Homo sapiens: one gene and its partner. The protein of the gene in region 2 purifies or fractionates together with the protein of the main gene of each other region. This does not show direct contact. Each region holds a gene or a part of one and is shown on either strand. Other genes may lie near its edges. The genes, in order: ZNF644 and CHAMP1.

Region 1 (10,327 bases), on a different chromosome or scaffold from region 2:
TAGGGAATTATAAGTATTTTTTTCTTTTTCTTATCTAAAATTTTAACAAGAAATAAATCAATAATTTATTAGATTATATGCACTCTTTGTTCACCTTGACTTCTGGTCTAATCTAAGAACCATGCAGTATGAAGAATCAATTCTGTAAATTTTATTTATTATTACAGTTGTCGTTTGCCTAAACTATTACAGGTATTATTCAATAATTTGTGATAAGAAAAACCAAGGTTGTAGTAAAGGTATGGCTACTGATGAAAGATCTATAATTGAATGTGGCTGGCCCTCAAAATAAGAAAACAAGTTCCCATTGTTGAAATAAATATGATAGCTATCTTCTGCAGTGGGGATGAAAAGTGATTCTAGTCTGTCATTTGAAATATCACAGATGGGGACTGGCTTCTGTCACATTCAAGGGTTAACATATATTTATGTGGTATTCAAAGGTTAATCTATACAATACAGCACCTGAATTTAAAATTAATGGTAAAACAAGATACGTTATAATACATTCTGATCATAATTATATTGAAATAGTAAGATAGATAAAAGAAATAAATATATCAAGCTATTTAAAAGTAGGTATCTTTGAGTGATACTATCACAGGTGATTTCCCCAATTTTTATTTTTTTGTTTTTCTAATATTTTTTAAATGGGCATAGATTACATTTTTTTTTTTAAGAGACTGGGCCTCACTCTGTTGCCCCAGTATGGAGGGCAGTGGCATGGTCATAGCTCACTGTGTTCACCTTGAACTCCTGGGCTCAAGCAATCCTCCCACCTCAGCCTCCTGAGTAGCTGGGACTACTGGTGCACACCACCATGCCTTTTTTTTTAATTCTTTCAGAGATGGGGTCTTACTATGTTGCTCAGGCTGATTTTGAACTCCTGGGCTCAAGTGATCCTTCTACCTCAGCCTGCAAAAGTGCTGGGATTACAGGCGTGAGCTACTGTGCCTGGTCTATTACATTTTCTTAGTGAGGAAAAACCCAGAGTGATCCTTTGGACTTTGTATTCTAATTGGACAGTCCTTGAGAAGTTATGTATATGTCCTTTAAAAAAGTTTGTCTAGTAAATTACTGAGAAATCATTATCTCCCCAACCCATAATTAAATAAGTAAAATCTAAAATACAGATATGAGTTATGCCACAGTTCTAATATACTCTAAAGAAGTATAGTGGAAAATAATACATAGAAGTTAACCTTTTTGTCTTGAAGCCATTAAATAAATCAACACTGCAGCCTGGAATTTTTTTTTTTTTTTGAGACGGAGTCTTGCTCTGTCACCCAGGCTGTAGTGCAGTGGCACCATCTTGGCTCACTGCAAGCTCCACCTCCCAGGTTCATGCCATTCTCCTGCCTCAGCCTCCCCAGCAGCTGGGACTAGAGGCGCACGCAGCAACGCCTGCTAATTTTTTTGTATTTTTAGTAGAGACGGGGTTTCACTGTGTTAGCCAGGATGGTCTCGATCTCCCGACTTCGCGATCCGCCCGCCTCGGCCTCCCAAAGTGCTGGGATTACAGGCGTGAGCCACTGCGCCTGGCCCAGACTGGAATTTTTTAAAGCCCTAATTTAGCATTAGAAGCTTGCATATCTCAGGCAATGGTAAAAGAATTAAAAGAAAATTAGTCAATACTGAATGATAAATCAGGCCATATGCTGACATAAAAATCTATCATGTAAATTGAGACAATATTTTATACTTTTCTTCTAGTGGGAACCAAATGAAAACATATTATTAATTTTCTAGTTGCCAAATAAAAGACGAATTTTGAATGCTTCCTAAAGAATTCTTTAAATTTTGTAACCCAAATATCTTTACTATGAAAAATGCTCTTTGCTTAATTTACTTTTCAGGAGTCACTCTAGTCTACTGTTTCTGATGTGAAATATTTTATTCTGATGACTGAATTCTTTATATAACTAGAAGGAGAAATAATTGTTTACATATAGTTCAACATATTTTAAAATTAAATGTAGTTTTGATTCCGAAACTTGTGGTCAAACTAATTCTTCTACTTGTATTCACACATGTTGATATTTGGCCTGATAAGACAAAATCATAGAAGTGTAAGAATTAGGAGGCCAGGTGTGGTGGCTCATGCCTGTAATCTCAACACTTTGAGAGGCGGAGGCGGAAGGATCTCTTGAGCCCAGGAGTTCAAGCACAGCCTGGGCAACATGGTAAAACTCTGTCTCTACGAAAAATACAAAAACTAGCCAAGAGTGATGACATGTGCTTTTAATTCCAGCTACTTGGGAGGCTGAAGTGGGAGGATCACTTGAGTCCTGAGAGGTTGAGTCTGCAGTGAGATATGATCACACCATTGCACTCCAGCCTGGGTGACAGAGTAAAACTCTGTCTTTAAAGAAAAAAAAAAAGAATTAGAGTGGAAAGGGGCTCTAGTGATTACTAGCCTTCCCACAAGATTCCTATGATTTTTGTTTGTTTGTTTGGTTTTTACTTCTGGACTCCACTTGCTATGTAGTATGTCTTCCAATTTAAAAATATATATTCAAAGACATATAACTATCAACGAAACTTGTTCAGTAAGAGATAACCAATATATACAGACTTGGTATATTTTCAGTCAAAAGTAAAGAAATGGGATGTTTTAGTTAGTTTTGTCACTATAGACAAATACATAGTTTTTATCGGGACTTTTGTAAAATTGAAAATAACTTACAAGTACTATTCCCTTATCTATTAACCTAAGGATCAGGAGACCCTTGGTTGGGAATGATCCAACTAGTCCAACCTTCTAATTTTGCATATAAGATGGCTCTGAATTTAGAGGTTTGATTAATCATGAAAGGGGGAAAATGATTTTTCTCACATACATTATATTGACCAATGAGGTGATTCTAGAAAAACTATGCTCTGTGATCCAAGTAACCTGGCAAGGATAAACAATTTAAATCCAATGAAACACAACCTGAAGTGAACTATTACCACCAATGATAAAAATAAGAAATGTTTCACATTTTAATTTTCTTTAAACCTTTTTTTATTTAGAGATTTTTCTGGTAAGGAGATATACCATAGGAAAGCAATTTCACTGGCAGTGAGGTATGTATATACTCTACCAAAATACTCCTTATTTTAACTGTTTTTAACTTTATTTACATACGAAGCAAAGAATCAATGCATATCCTTGGTTCAACTATAGTATTAGCCATACTACATGAAATAAAATGGTGCTTGCATACAAAAACTTGTTGTTTGTAAAGGAATCTGATTTCAGATTAAAATACCTAATTGTTTTTGGAAAAAATTTTTAAAAAGAATCACAATTTATCATGACCAAGACACCTGCACCATATTTTCCATTCCTCACAGCACATTTATTTCAGTAATTCTGTTATGTCGGTTCTTAGCATGAGCATAGTGTTACACGATTTTCGTACATATAATCACATCCAAAACAAGTTCTAAAATTTAAATTGTAAACATTCTCATATGTAGAAATATTTTAATTGGTGTATTAAGTTTTGCTAACTGATCAAATTTGGAAGATAATATAAATGAGAACGTCTATTCTAAACTGTGTAGTGAGCATTGTTTATTAATTACATTTCTACAATGTTAAATAAAGTAAGAGGCAAACCTGTCCTGTAAGCATGTCAAATTTTAGGTAAAACATTAAAAAGAAACAAACCTGTTAACAAAAGAATGTCTTGCAATAAAGAACATTAGATTTTTAAAATCTATTATGATACAAAAATGTAAAGGGTAAATAGCATCTTTGTTGACAAAGTAGGAGGTAGCATGGATGCACCACTTTATTGTCTGAGAAATGCAACTGGAGTAAAGAATATTTCCTTACCACAAATAATTTCCAGAACTATGTACATATTTCTTTTAGAAATACTTGTTTAAACAAATCTCCCTCCACTTTTTAGTATAAAAAAAACCGTTCCATGTGATTTTAAAAAAAACACTTACACATCTAGATAGAATAGTACTCTGCCCTATTTGAGTGAACAGTCTCAAACTATGAAGTACATGATATTTAATGCCCTAATTTGAGTAAATTTAGTCAGCGGTTCTTGGTATTATACAAAACACTAAATACATACAAACAAAATATAATATCTTATTTTTCTATGCAAGTCTTGTGGGGAATAAACAGAGCCTTGATTCTGGTAACACTGCAAAAAACATAATTGTCCAATAAGTCTGTCTATAAGTATCCATGTGCAACAGTTTATTAATGGCTGCTTACATGTACTGCTCTTTTACTGAGTGAACACAGTTAACCAACAAAACTTCATAAACCTTAAAAACACATCTTCCACCCTATATAAAATATATAGACTACTTACTGTTTTAAGTATTCAATTTGCTCTGATGTCACTGTAATTCACTTTCCCCCCATTTTCCTGCTTTAGTATTTATAAACAGATAATTTAATGTGGCTTAAAAAAAAAGAATTTCAAATTTACATCCAATTCAAACTGGCTATTTAAAAGGTTTCCTGGTTCTATGAAGCTGCTTCGGCCATTAGTAGAGAAAATGAAGTTTCTGTAATGGAGGCAGGCTTTTTAAGTAGTGACGTGACTTCCACCATGCCAGCTCCAGTCCGTGGAAGATTAGCGTTTACAATATGTCGTTGTAAGTGCTTAATCCAGTCTTCCTGAACAGACAAGGGTCCTCGAAAGACTAGGCCACAAAACCTACAGAAAGATAACAATTCTCTTAACATGACCAATTCTCTTTCTTTAAAACTAATTCACACAAAATCCTAAAACATAAGGAATAAACTTTATCATATTTTAAAGACAGCAATTGATAAAGTTTCTAAAGTCAAATGATTTAATAAAACATCAAAACTCCCAATTCATATGTTTATTAACAGCTATAATAAACTCCAGTAATCTTTGTATAGGTGGGAGCATTATTATTTTAAAATTAACATCTACACATCTTAATTCACTTGAAACAACAACTATTACTCCAAAATATGTCATTCTTTAGAAAAGACCCTTCCCCAGTTTAGCATTCCTTAAATGGCATTGTGTCTATGTTTCTTCATGTGTGTTGTGTGTGAGTGTGAGTACGGAAGAAGGCGTGACTATGAGGGGAGAGAAAATGTGTTCCCAATAAGCGAGAACTCAAGACAACAAAACATCAAACCAAACAAAATTAAACCATACAAACCAAATAAACACAAGGAAAGCCAGTTTTTTTTTCTTTTTTCTGAGACAGAGTCTTGCTCTGTCGCTCAGGCTGGAGTGCAGTGGCACGATCTCGGCCCACTGCAACCTCTGCCTCCTGGGCTCAAGCAATTCTCCTGCCTCAGCCTCCCAAGTAGCTGGGATTACAGGCACCCGCTACAAAGCCTGGCTAATTTTGGTATTTTTAGTAGACACGAGGTTTCATCATGTTGGCCAGGCTGCTCTTGAACTCCTGGCCTCAAGTGATCCACCCATCTTGGCCACCCAAAGTGCTGGAATTACAGGCATGAGCCACCACACCTGGCCAAGCTACTTTAATAAATCACAGTATAATAGATTTACATTACTATTGGCTAATGTAAAAAACTTGATTCATTAGTTGTTGAAGTACGGATATTGTGAGCTGAATTAAGATTTTAAGCCTATCTCCAAAAGTTCATTTATAACTTGATTGTTGAGAATGCACTCTGCCACAAATTAAAAATCCCAAATGAAATAGCTAATATGTTTCAAAGCAAAGTATGAAGAAACTGATCAGATTTGGCAATATAGGCATATACCTGCATCGGAGAATGTAAACCTCGTCAGCACCATGAGGTAATGTTAGCATTTTCTTCTTGCTTCCAGATCTTGACCTTGATTTCTTTTGCTTACAATCTAAGGCTAAAAAGGGGAAGAGAAAGACTTAACATTCCTTATATATTTCAAAATATACATACACACATATTTTTCTAGAGAGGTCAGACAGACCATCTAAATCAGTTAGAAAAAGTCCGCATTCATTTCCCTATTCCCTGAAGCATGCATTCAACTTGCTGATTCTGTAATAGCAGTAATATTATCTGTACTGTACAGCGGTATTATCTGTACTGAAGAATACTATCTGTATTCTTCCTATACTGCCTTTTCAAATAATGCTTTACCACACCAAACTAGAACTGAGAAAATGTAACTAAATAACTTGAAAGTACTAAATTGGTCAATTATTACAATAATGGTAATCTTTACTTTTATAATCATACATAATTTTAATATCTGGTTTAATCTTATTTCCAGAAAAGTAGAACCTTTTATTTGAGATCATTAAATTAAGTTTGCATTTGATTACTGCTCCATTAAGTAGGTCTTCTATACTTGGAAAACTTCGTAAGGGAATATGGATAATGTAATTAAAAGCTCAAGGAAAAATCAATTTTCATAGTGATTCACCATGAATTTTATAATAAATAGCTCTTAAAATTGTATGCTGGCCCTACATTTGAAAGGACAAAAAAAGCTCAACTTTCATTTTTGAACTTAATTTGTATTGCATATACAATAATCAATTATGCAATCATATAAGTTTTATTTTACTAGAAAATAAATATAAATCCATATTATCTCACGTAAGTTTACAATTGGATCTGATGTTTAATGCTAACTATTCTTTACATATTTTTCATTTTACATTTTCTCCAACTGCTTATTTTAAAATGTGATTTGAAAAGGTAAAAAAAAAAATTAAAATAGACCAAAATTTTATGTGAACTGTTCTTGAAATTTTTCCATTAATTGACTTTTCCTTTATTTATTCTAAAACAACCTGATTTTAAAAAGAAAAAAAGGTATTTTTTATAGGTAGCAATAGATAGCACATAACATTTTATAGGTCTTTGAATACAGCTACACCATTTCTTTGGACAAAGGGATGATAGCAATCCAGGGTGCTGCTGGTCAATTAGCAGGAAGAGAAGGTAAGAATTTATCTGTAGGGATCCAAGGGGGGAGGGATACAAATGTAACAGAAGAGTTACCCAAATGGCTTTTCTTCCATTATCCTGCCATGTGAAAAATTCCCTGGAAAAATTCTAAGTAAGAGAGAAGGAACTGGCTGTTCAATGACTCTGTGAAACGAATTGTTCAAAGTCCAGATTCCAAAAGAATAGATGCTACTATTACAAAACCAGTAAACATAGTTCCTTAGTCAAATGGCAATGATAACAGAAATGTCATATAGAAAATTCAAAACCACAAGAAACCTAAATCTCATTGAAGCCACTGGTTTCAGCTTCCTGTCACCTGCCTATTCAAAAGTAAAATCTAGGACACAGTCTTTTTCTGTTTATCCTTAGAAGAAGAGTCTAATAAGTAAAGAACTACTAGAAGTCAAGTTAGGTATTAAAGAATGGGTAATTCAAAGCTAAACAACCAAACTCTGGAATAGAAAAATCTTATAAGGATCTTATTAGTTATCTCAGTCAAGAGCCTCGCATGTAGTAGGAACTCAACAAATACTTCTGGAGTAAAAATAAAGCAAAACTCAGTAATTTAACCATTGATATTTAGACAGCCTATGAATGAAAATGTTTTACTCCTATTTAATACAGGTAATATTCCTGTACAACATTGTGCATCATTTGTTTAAATATGTTGCTGCAGTCACACATACTTCATTATCCTAGATATAAATCACTGACCAGCCAGCTTATGTACAGAAACTAGGTTATTCACAACAACTACAAGAGTGAAATACCTTATGCTTTGTACCCAGTAGGAAAAACCTTTTTCCTAATCGCTTTGGTGAGCAATCTGAATTTAAGTGGGTTATGAGTGATTCATACACTAGAAATAGAGTTCAGGGAACTCAAAGAGTAAGTGCTACTAGATGTCAGCTATTCTTTCCATCTGTAAAGATGGATCCTTGTCTGTGTTAGGCAGAATAGAGCAGGCATTTGGTGTATCATAAGATTACAGGTAGAATCTTACTTTGATGAGCTTGCTGGTTGTCAAAATTGCCACACTGTATTCAAACTCCTTTTAAAATGCAAATAAATTACTGTAGGATACAAATAGAATACATTATAACAACCCTTAAAAATTTGTTCACAGAATGTTAATGTTAGGGGTGTAAAGCAAATTGAGGAAGAAGGGCAGGAGGATGGTAGGGAAATATGCAAAAGAACATTTTATCAGTTACAAAAGCATTTAAATTTACATGTTGTTAATATTTTAAAAATGGAACTGGAAATGTTTATTCTAAAATACAGAAATATTTTTGGCTTTTTCTTTAATAGGGAAAAAAGAATTATTTTATGGCTTTTGATGCTTTATGGACTGTGGAAACTCTTAAGTTTAGGCTGTTTTATGAATGATCAGATCTAAACTTGAAATGAGAATGCCATCATTTTTGTAGCAATGAGTATTTGAAGGTATTATAACCTTGGAAAGCAGGACAACTCTGCCAGCTTATGACTGATCAATCATCTCTAGAACCCAGGGCTCCAAAGTTAAGGTTACAGAATCTCATGCACTGAGAATCCCTAGAAACTTATTCACAAAGTTAAAATATTAAAAATCTGGGAACTTTGGAAATTGAAATCTAAATGCCTCAGTGTTTTAATATCTTCATCAATTCTAGATTTATTATCTCCTGAAATGTTATATTTTTGAGCAGGTGAAACATGAACATATTTTACAATAGTTTTTCTAATGCCAATATCCAAACCCACTCCTGTGATACTGCCCATACCTTTGGGAAAATCTGTTTAAAATTGAGTATTTAACATATTAAAACTGCACAAAAAGGGGACATCTATATAGGATCCTCTACATAAAAGGATGATTTACACAGAAAATTTCAATAAATGAAAAGGATGAGGTAGAAACATGTCTGTTATACCAATATTCTCACTTAAGAGATTTTATTATATCTAGAGGGAAAAGTAGTTTTGTTCTGGACTGTACCAGGAGCCACTAGAACATTAAATACAGATCACTAACACATTCAGTTTTAATATAATGCAGCTCATCAGTATCTGTGATAAACAGCCAAAGCTTTAACAGAGTTGTTTATATGAATAATCTGCCAAATAGATAACTGTTACACAAAGCCTTTTTTTGTAATAGGATTTTATTTGCACTTGTTAGTGACCAAAAAACTCCAAGGAACTTAAAAACAAAAAACCCACACACTCTTTTCTCTTTACAAAGTATTTTAAATCTAACATTGTTTCTATACTTTAAATATATTAAAAAATTATTTTTAGAAAGTATTAATTTTCTTCTCAAGCATAAGCTTCTATAGAAAGAAACAAATCCAGTCATCCAAACCTTCCTAAGATTACTATTCGGTGGGCAGAAACTGTTTAAGTGATCAATTTCAACCAAAAGACTGTTATCTTTCAAGTTACCTGATTTATAAAAGATCTAAATTGCTACTGAGAATATTTTACTCATACGGAGAATAAATTGAGCTGTAAGGTCAAATGCAAAAAAAAAAAATAGAATATACCTTTCAGTAAGATATTTGTCTTGGTCAAATACAAATATGAAAGAGAAATACAATAAACTCATGAGTCCTCAAAAAGAACACCACACTGCTATGCTATGAATACGACGACCAATGACCATGACGACAACAACATGCCAAAGCACTAAACCAGATTGGTGCAAAGCAAATAAATAGATAACACAACACATAAAAATTCAAGTCTGTTTTCTGAGCCATTATTTAGTTTTATACAAAGAAGATTAAGAATTTACTTTTGACTTTGACATTAAAATCTTTTGCTCTTTCCACCTTTCTGCCCATTTTATACAATAATTGCTTCAATGAGTTTCATTTTCTTTTTCCTTCACGATATAAATGACCCAAGAGAATGAGATTTCATAAAAACATCTGGAACTTCTTTGATAAAGCACACCATAACTAAATTAACATTCGCCACCGAAGTATTTTTATTTGTAATCATTCTCACCTGCCCAATAACTTAAAAGTCTTGTTTAATCCATTTCTTTTCTAATTGGTTGCTGGTATCTCTAGGACAAAGTGAAACAACTGGGGTATCTATACCCAAAGTAAGAGGCACAGTATACCCCTACGAGAGGGAAGAAAATTTCTTCTCTAAGTGGTTGGCCTGTGTTAAGTTTGGTGGACAATATTAGCTATGAGCTCATTCAGAACTACAGTAGGAATAAACATGACACGAACAGGTAAATCATCATTCTATCACTATTAAAAAGTTGGTGCTGGAGGTCGTGCTGGCAGTGGTGAGGTGGGAAGAGGATGCACACATGCCAAAGGATACACAAGTGTAAGAAAAATAAACTCAACTCTTTTTTTTAAACCTTTATTTTAACTTCAGGGGTACACGTGCAGGTTTGTTATATAG
Region 2 (9,495 bases):
TCCTAGGCTCTGGGGAGACAGCAGGGAACGGCTTCCAAGGTTCAGGAGACTCTGAAGGGGATGGCTTCCTTGGCTCAGGGGAGGTAGTCCGGGCTGACTTCCGAGATTCTGGAGATGCAGCTGGGGATGGTCCCCAAGGTTCTGGGGAAGCAGCTAGAACTGGTGACTCTGGAGATGAGGCTGAAGGTGGCCCCAATGTTTCCGGGAAATGAGACTGCTTCTGGGGTTTGGGATTACTAAGAGTAGCCTTTACTGACTCAGGAGATACAGGGGCAGGTTTCTGTGGTTCTGGAGAAGGAACAGGGGCAAGTTTCTGAGACTCACAAACAGGGACTGATTTTGGAGGTTCAGGAGAAGAAACAGAGGCAGGTTTTGAAGGCTCAGGAGAAGGAAGAGGTGTCTGTAGCTCAGGAGAAACAACAGAGCCAGGTTTCTGAGGCTCCAGGGGAGTAAGAGGAGTAGGTTTTGGCGATTCTGGAGACAAAACTGAACCAAGTTTCTGTGTTTCCATTGAAAGGGCAGGTATGGATTTTGGTTCTGCTGAATTGCAGGGTATTTTCTGGTGTTCAGGAAGAGGAGGGCTTTTCACAGGATCTGTTTCTTTGTTCAACTGATTTTTTGGTTTATCATTCCATTTGTCTGGGGATGCATGTTTGGATGTGATGTGATAGTATACATTAGAGTACATCTTGCTGGTGAAGAAGCATTTATGGCAGTGAAATAACTTTGCACTTTTCTGGTAAAATATCATTTTGCCTAGCCCACCAGCATCCATTTCATCACAAAATTCTGGATGGATGGTACCCATATGGATTTGTACATTTTCATAGTCTGTGCCTCTGAAACTGCAATGGTCACACTCCAAACGTGCTGATGGTTTACGAAGTTCCTGGAATGCTTCCATTCTTCTGTCTGTTACCAACACACACGGTTATATTCTTTAAAAACTTTCAATACTGCTGCAATAAAGTAGGAATAAATTATTTTCATGAACTGTAATTCTGAATAAAATGCTGTCAGTCCATTCTATAACTGCATAATTTTAAGTCTAGAACAGTGCGTGCTTTATTTGATAGTATCTCTAGGGAGAATTTGAAGAAAAAGGAGATATAGAACAGTCCCAGGCACTCTGCTAGGAGTTTCACATACATCATCTCATTTAATCCTAATGATATGACTCAACTATTATTTTCACTTACAGATGAAGAAACAGGTTCAGAGAAGTTACCTGACTTTCTCTGGTCCAGGCTATAGGACTATCAGTGATGTGAGCCTGACTCTAGAATTAGCTATTGCATGTGCTTTATACTTTGACTCTCAAACTCCGAGTACAAAAGTCCTCAGCACACAAAGATGAGTGAATATCAAAATTAAATCTTGGCTATTTAAGGATGAACAAGAGACTAAAACTTTTGCAGAAAGCACTTAATAAATTAAATCTAGCTATAAAAAGATGACTTTAAAACATGATGCTGGCTTGATTTCATGTCAACATATTTTGTAATGTTTAATCTATCCCAATATAGTATTCTATTAATTCATTTAATAAATAAATAACTTTGTGTCCTACAATGTTCTAGGCACTTAGGCTTAAAGCAGTGCTTTGCAATATGGCGTTCATGAGTTGGAAAGATAAGGTGGAGAGTGATGTAGAGGCCGTTGGAAAAGACCTCTATGCATGGGACATTCCAGCAGAGATCCTGAATGATGTGAAGGCGCATACCAACCAAAGGGCAAATCAGAGGACACCCCAGCAGCTGGAACACAGTTGCCGGAAAACATGAATTTAAAAAAATTGTAAACCAGTCTTCTTAAGTAGTAAAGGGAATAGAAGCTCACAGTTAAAAACACATTCACACAGTACGAGATACAGAGTGTCAGTCCCTAGGGGTAGCCAGTGTACTCATGTGTCCTGGAAGAAATGTCCTAAGCATATATTGATCAACACACATGCTTTACACAAATGGGATATTAAACATATTATCTGGCAACTTACTCTCATTTAGAATTTATCTCTAAGACATTTTTACATATGGAATAAGCACTGACTTTCCCTGTACTTATCTGTGCATGTGAGGGTATTTCTGCAGGGAAAATTCCTAGCAATGGATTACTTGGCCATTTGTGTGTAAAATTGATACATTTTACCAAACTCTCAAAAACTTCTATTACTGCATAACAACGTGTATATATGAGAGACAATTTCCTATAAATTCCTAATCCTTGCTACAACCTAGGTGAAAGCTAGTATTTCACTATTGTGTTAATGTGCTTCTCTTTAATGAGAAAGACTGAACACCTTCCCTTATTGACGGTAATGATATTTACTCCTCCTCAAAGAACAGTACAGATTAGAAATGCAGGCTCTCCCTTTATTAATTACAAAACCATTATTTTAAAAAAATGTATAGGCTGGGCGCAGTGGCTCATGCCTGTAATCTCAGCACTTTGGGAGGCCGGGCAGGCAGATCACGAGGTCGGGAGATCAAGACCATCATGGCCAACATGGTGAAACCCCATCTCTACTAAAAATACAAAAATTAGCCAGGCGTGGTGGCGTGTGCCTGTAGTCCCAGCTACTTGGGAGGCTGAGGCAGGCCAATCGCTTGGACCAGAAGTCGGAGGTTGCAGAGAGCTGAGATCATGCCGCTGCATTCCAGCCTGGTGACAGAGCAAGACTCCATCTCAAAAAAAAAAAAAAAAAAAAAAATTAACATTTCTAACTTTGATAATTTGTTTTTAAAGATGTTCTCACTGGCAATACTGCTTCCTAACACTTTTATCCAAGGTATATCATTTGCCTTTTTTATTTTTTGATCTAAAGCTAAAAAGGTGACAGATACTTGAGGAAACAAATACTTTTCTTCGGAAACTATTTACTCTTTCTGAGTTGCCCAGCAGTTATCCTGTATTTTAGAAAACTGTTTTGGGGCCAGGACTGTAACAAAAGAAAAATAAATAATTCCGTACTGATGAAAAATCTCTGAAAATGATCTTTAACTTACAAACGTAATTGAATGCATGGAAAAATAATGGGTTAACCATCCGTCTCAGAGCCCATTGTTAAATAAAACTAGAAGACTTTAGGGGAAAACGTAGGATATGTCTCAATAATCCCATGAGGCAATAATGAACAGCCCAACTGGCAATAATGAACAGCCAAGCTAATATTAAAGAGCACTATATTACATATTGTAATTACAACAGAGACTAAGAGCTCAGGTGTGCTGGGTTTGAGTCTGACTCACCTACCATTCCCCATTCCTCCCAGCCATCCCTCCTCTTCCCGCTGCCTACCACCAGCTCTTCAGGCCAATCTCATACTTAAATCTACAAAGAATGCTACAGAATTCACTTCTCATATCCCAAATTATGTATATCTAGCACACAACACACATTATATCCATAAGGGCGTGTACACTTTTAGAGATTTTCCTCAAGAACTCCAGGTATTTTTTTTTAATTTTCTCCTCATAAAATATTCTCCTAAGCATGCTTTCCCTACTAGACTTACCTGCTGTCTTACTAGACACCTTAAAAGTGGTCTTCAAAAGGCAGGCATTCTACATGGCTTTTTGACTAAACCACAGCAAACAGCCTATAGTATATGAAGAAGAACAAAGATGAGAAGTTGAACCTGGAAAAAAAAAAAAAAAAAAAGAAAAGTAATCAAAACTATATCTGTGATCGTGTGTGCCCCCTGTAATGGAATTCTGTGTATTTCTCTCACCATCCTGCCCTAACAGTGAGAGGAGTCCAGTCCACTAAGCCTGCTTACTTTTTTTTTTTTTGAGACAGAGTCTTGCTCTGTCGCCCAGGCTGGAGTGCAGTGGCGCGATCTCGGCTCACTGCAAGCTCCGCCTCCAGGGTTCATGCCATTCTCCTGCCTCAGCCTCCTGAGTAGCTGGGACTACAGGCGCCCGCCACCACGCCCGGCTAGTTTTTTGTATTTTTAGTAGAGACGGGGTTTCACCGTGTTAGCCAGGATGGTCTCGATCTCCTGACCTCGTGATCCGCCCGCCTCGGCCTCCCAAAGTGCTGGGATTACAGGTGTGAGCCACCGCGCCCAGCCCGAACACTTACTTTTATGAAATGACACCAAAGACTACAGTAGATACCACTCCTGACACCATCCTTGTCTACTTTCTCTTTAATGATCCACTATGGAATTATGCCCGTGTGTGTAATCAAATCCTTCTCAAACCCACCACCTAACTTCACTTCTCTGATAAGCACTCAGAAGACTGCTGGTGTGACTACTGACTATAACAATGGCTGACTTTTGTCAATTATTGATATTACACAGCAGAGTGCCAAATTAACAGGCAGTGGAGGAAGGGACACCACAACAAAGAGGACCAAGAGGCACAAAAAGAAAGGACTCTGGGAGGAGCAGGATGGCAGTGTCCTGACCCCAAGGAAGAACACATGGACCTGCTTCAGTGATTGCTCTGCCCTCTTCTCTTCCTGCATGCATTTCAAAGATAAAGCATCATGGTGTGGGTGAGTCTGCTGACAGGAACAGAATGTGATAAACTGGCCATGCACAAGCTACACAACAGCTCATATTATGCTTCTGATTAGCTCCAGCACATTCATCTACCCCTTCTCTATCCCCTACCCCTATCACTGCTTTAATTCTGACATCTGAACTCCCTGCCACTAGTCTCCTTTTCTTCCAACCCATTCATCGTACAGCTACCAAACCTGTCTTCCAAACAGAAGCCTAATGTGATCTGCCTGTTCACATGTCCTCCAAGTCAACTAAGACACCTACAGTATACAATTTGAATATGGCATATAAAGCTCTTCACAGTCTGGCCCATGACCAGACTGCATTCTCAAAATACTGGCCCACATGTAACTCCCTGACTATTCCAGCGTCTGTGCATTTGTATAAACTATTTCCTCTCCTTTACACTCCCTGTCTTGCCACCCGGCCATCAGGCAAACTCCTTCATCCTTCAGGCAGGACAGCTTTTTAAGTCAGCTGTCTTTCTGTAAACACAGGGACCTGGTTCCAGGACTTCCCCCATATGCCAAAATCCACACATACTCAGGTCCTACAGTCAGCCTTGTGGAATTCCCATATATGAAACATCTGCCCTCCATATAAATGTTTCACATTCTGTAAACGCTCTTTTTTATTGGCATTTGGTTGAAGTTCTAACCTCTGTTATTCATGAGTCAACTGTACTGGTCAATTCCCCACTTCTTCCCAATCTTCCTAGAAGCCCCAGCTGTACATGTCACCCTCTGGCACTACAGCCTGATACCAAAAACAGGATGCCAGCTCCTGGAGAGGAGGGACTATTATCCCTTTATTCACCTCTGGAACCGTTGCACATCCCTGACACACAGTATGTGCTCTGTTCAATCCTAACATTCTCTCAATCTTAGACTCACAGGATTTTAAAACTAGAGGAAACCTAAGTTACCATCTAGTCTCAAAGTCATAGGATTTGAGGGTAGGAAAAGACCTCAGGGATCATCTACTTTAAAACTTCAATTTATAGTTAAGGAAACTCAAGCTTGACATTAAACAGCTTGCCCAAATCAGACAAATGATCAGTATCTGATGAGAGAATAAAGTTCTGCTATCTGTCCAGGTTCTTTGTAGATATACACAAACTAATACAGTGGAATTTAGTAAGATCTTTTAAAGCCTGTACAATAGTCCAAAATAAACAAGATGAAACAAACACTTAGAATCCACATATCAAGTGCATAAATACAGGACTATAGAGAACTATATCCCATATTCTGCACTGGGCAGAGTACACTATTCCAGTGGATCACTGTCCCCAGCTCTGGGCAGGAAGGACACTTTAAGAGAGTCTCTAACAAACTAGGGAACATTAAAAAAAAAAAAAAAAAAAAAAAAAAAAAGGCAACCAGGATGGCAGATGGCCCTTTAAAAAAAAAAAAGTCATTTACAAATAAAGACATTTAACTTCAAAAGGGGAAGAATTATAGATAATATATGAGCTATCCTAGAAGTGACAATCAGAAGCTAGCAGGAAAAGAATTGTGGCTTAACACAGTTTACAATCTACTCTATCATGAACTAGAACGAGTTCCTTTGTCAGGTAGGAGTACTCCATAATTAGAATCTGATGATCAGGCCGGGTGTGGTGGCTCAGGCCTGTAATCCCAGCACTCTGGAAGGCTGAGGCAGGTGGATCCCTTGAGCTCAGGGGTTCAAGAACACCCTGGGCAACACGGCGAAACCCCGTCTCTACAAAACATACAAAAATTAGCCGGGTGCAGCAGAATGCACCTATAGTCCCAGCTACTCGGGAGCCTGAGGCAAGAGAAATCGCCTGAGCCTGAGAGGCAGGAGTTGCAGTGAACCAAGACTGCACCATTACACTCCAGCCTAGATGACAGAGTGAGACCCTGTCTCAAAAAAGAAAACCAAAAAAAAAAAAAAATGATGATCAGCATAGGACTAGAAGGATCTTCAGAGGTCTTGAGTTCAACCTCTTCATTTTATAACTGAAAAGACTGATGCTGAGGGAAAGAAGTGACCTGTCAAAGATCACAACACTGAGGTCAGAGGGAACAGTTTTTTTATTCTGGTTTTCTCAATTCTGGTCTCTGCTGTAACAAAATGCTGTCTTTCCCACAGTAGCAGAACGATCCACGAAGATGTTACAGAATTTAGTCCCAGAATTCAACTTTTAGGCAAAGCCTAGAGAGCTGGGCGTCCTTCCAGCTTTTAGGTTCTAGCAAAATTTCTTCCTAAATTTAAGAACTCCTAACCCTAACTAAAAATTAACTCAGAATTGTCCAGATTAACAAAAATTTCTTTTTGTCTTTGAGACAGATTACATCTCGTCTCTAAAAAACCTAAATTCTAATCATTGGTGCTCTGCCAGTCTATCACCCAGTATCCTTCAATGCAATGTTATGCCAGATGGTGTATCATACCTATTTCCCATCTCCCATTCAATTTCTTCTTTGAAGTCGAACACCACTGATCATCTTTTAAAACACATCTGATGCATAGTTTTTTAAATTAAAATTCAATAAGTAGAACATGTTCAAAGCTAAATGGGTTCTATTAGTCTATACACACTAGCATTGTTCTTTATCTTAGCGGACTTTTTTTCTTTTTTAGAGACAGGGTCTCGCTCTGTTGCCCAAGGTTTTGGTGCAGTGACGCCATCACAACTCACTGCAGCCTCATACTCCTGGGCTCCAGAGATCCCCCCGCCTCAGCCTCCTAAGTAGCTGGGACCATAGGTACCTGCCACCACATCTGGCTAATTTTTTTTTTCTGTAGCGATGAGGTCTCACTATGTTGTCCAGGCTGGTCCTGAACTCCTGGCCTCCAGAGATCTTGTTGCCTTGGCCTCTCAAAGTGCTGGGATTACAGGTGTGAGCTACCATGCCTGGCCTTTAAGAAATTAATAAACTGGGCGGGCGCAGTGGCTCACACCTGTAATCCCAACACTTTGGGAGGCCAAGGCAGGCGGATCATTTGAGGACAGGAGTTCGTGACCAGCCTGGCCAACAGCCAACATGGTGAAACCCTGTCTCTACTAAAAATACAAAAATTAGCTGGGCGTGGTGGTGCATACCTATAATCCCAGCTACCTGGGAGGCTGAGGCAGGAGAATCGCTTGAACCCGGGAGACGGAGGTTGCAGTGACCCAAGACTGAGCCACTGCACTCCAGCTGGGCAACAGAGTAAGACTCCATACTCACCCCCAACCCAAAAAAGAAAGAAATTAATAAACTAATTTTCCAAGTAGTTTTATGTTTGAAGAAAAACTGAAGGGAATGTACAAGAATTCCCACCTATCTTCTTGTCCCCAGTTTTTCCTACTACAGGCTGAGCATCCCTAATCTGAAAATCTGAAATCTGATTATGCTCCAACATCCAAAACTTTTTGAGTGCCAAAAGGAGCATTTTAGATTTCAGATTACGGATGTTTAACCAGTAAGTACAATGCAACTATTCCAAAATCCAAAAAAAAAAAAAAAAATCCAAAGCACTTCTGGTTCCAAGCATTTCGAATGAAGGATACTTCACCTGTATTAACATCTTGCATTAGTGTGAGATATCTGCTACAATGATAAGCTAATACTGATTTATTAAGTAGTCTATAGTTTACACAAGGAGTCATTTTTATTTATTTATTTTTTTTTGAGAGGGAGTCTCGCTCTGTCACCCAGGCTGGAGTGTAATGGCGCAATCTCGGCTCACTGCAATCTCCACCTCCCAGGTTCAAGCGATTCTCCTGCCTCAGCCTCCCCAGTAGCTGGGACTACAGGCGCGCGCCACCACAGGCTCACGCCTGTAATCCCAGCACTTTGGGAGGCCAAGGTGGGCGGATCACCTAAGGTTGAAAGTCAGAGAGCAGCCTAACCAACGTGGAGAAACCTCGTCTCTACTAAAAATACAAAATTAGCCGGGTGTGGTGGCAGGCGCCTGTAATCCCAGCTACTTGGGAGGCTGAGGCAGGAGAATCGCTTAAATCCGAGAGACGGAGGCTGCAGTGGGCCAAGATCGCATAACTGCACTCCAGCCCAGGCAACAAAAGTGAAACTCTGGCTCATTAAAAAACAAAAACAAAAATAAAAACAAAAAACTTGCCATTTAGGCCGGACATGGTGGTTCATGCCTGTAATTTCAGCACTTTGGAAGGCCGAGGCGGGTGGATCACCTGAGGTCAGGAGTTCGAAACCAGCCTGACCAACATGGAGAAACCCTATCTCTACTAAAAATACAAAATTAGCCAGGTGTGGTGGCAAGCGCCTGTAATGCCAGCTACTTGGGAGAATGAGGCAAAAGAATCCCTTGAACCCAGGGGGCGGAGGTTGCAGTGAGCCAAGGTCGGGCCATTGCACTCCAGCCTGGGCAACGAGAGCGAAACTCCCGTCTCAAAAAAAAAAAAAAAAACAAAACTTGCCATTTAATCATTTTTAAAAGCACAATTTAGTTAGTTTAGTACTAAAACGTTGTGCAAACATCACCACTATCCACTTCCAGAACTTCTTCACCACAAACAGAAATTCTGTACCCATGAAACAGTAACTTCCACTCTCCACTTTCAGTGCTGGTAATCTCAATTCTGTGCCTGAGGGGGAATCATACAGTATGTCTTTTTTGTGTCTTATTTCACTCAACATAATGTGTTCAATGTGCTCGTTTATACTGTATAATGTGTTCGTTTATATTGCAGCATGTATCAGAATTTCATTCCTTTCTAAAGATGAACAATGGTCCATTCATTATATGTATATACCACAGCTTGCCTTTCATCCACATGTTGATAGACATCTGGATTTTGAATAATGCTGCGATGAACATTTGTGAACAAGTATCTGAGTCTCTGCTGTCAATTTTTGGGGGTATAAACCTAGAACTGAGGAACGACTACCAATTTCCATAGCTGCTGCACCACCCTACTTTCCCACCAGCAATGCACCCGAGCTTCAATTTCTCCACATCCCCAACACTCATAATTTCCCTTTTTTTTAATA

What was found.
Region 1: the proteins of CHAMP1 (region 2) and ZNF644 purify together in Homo sapiens (affinity purification with mass spectrometry; 2 studies listed by BioGRID and IntAct, with this or other methods). This does not show direct contact.

What each region holds. Positions count from the first base shown.
Region 1 is NC_000001.11:90,912,315-90,922,641, forward strand, and holds the end of ZNF644 (zinc finger protein 644), read right to left. Parts: intron 5,841-10,327; coding exon 5,738-5,840; intron 4,677-5,737; coding exon 4,484-4,676; 3' UTR 2,990-4,483; downstream 1-2,989.
Region 2 is NC_000013.11:114,315,252-114,324,746, reverse strand, and holds part of CHAMP1 (chromosome alignment-maintaining phosphoprotein 1), read right to left. Parts: intron 3,638-9,495; 5' UTR 3,515-3,637; intron 2,685-3,514; exon of another isoform or gene 960-2,684; 5' UTR 905-959; coding exon 1-904. UniProt on the Homo sapiens protein: Required for proper alignment of chromosomes at metaphase and their accurate segregation during mitosis. Involved in the maintenance of spindle microtubules attachment to the kinetochore during sister chromatid biorientation.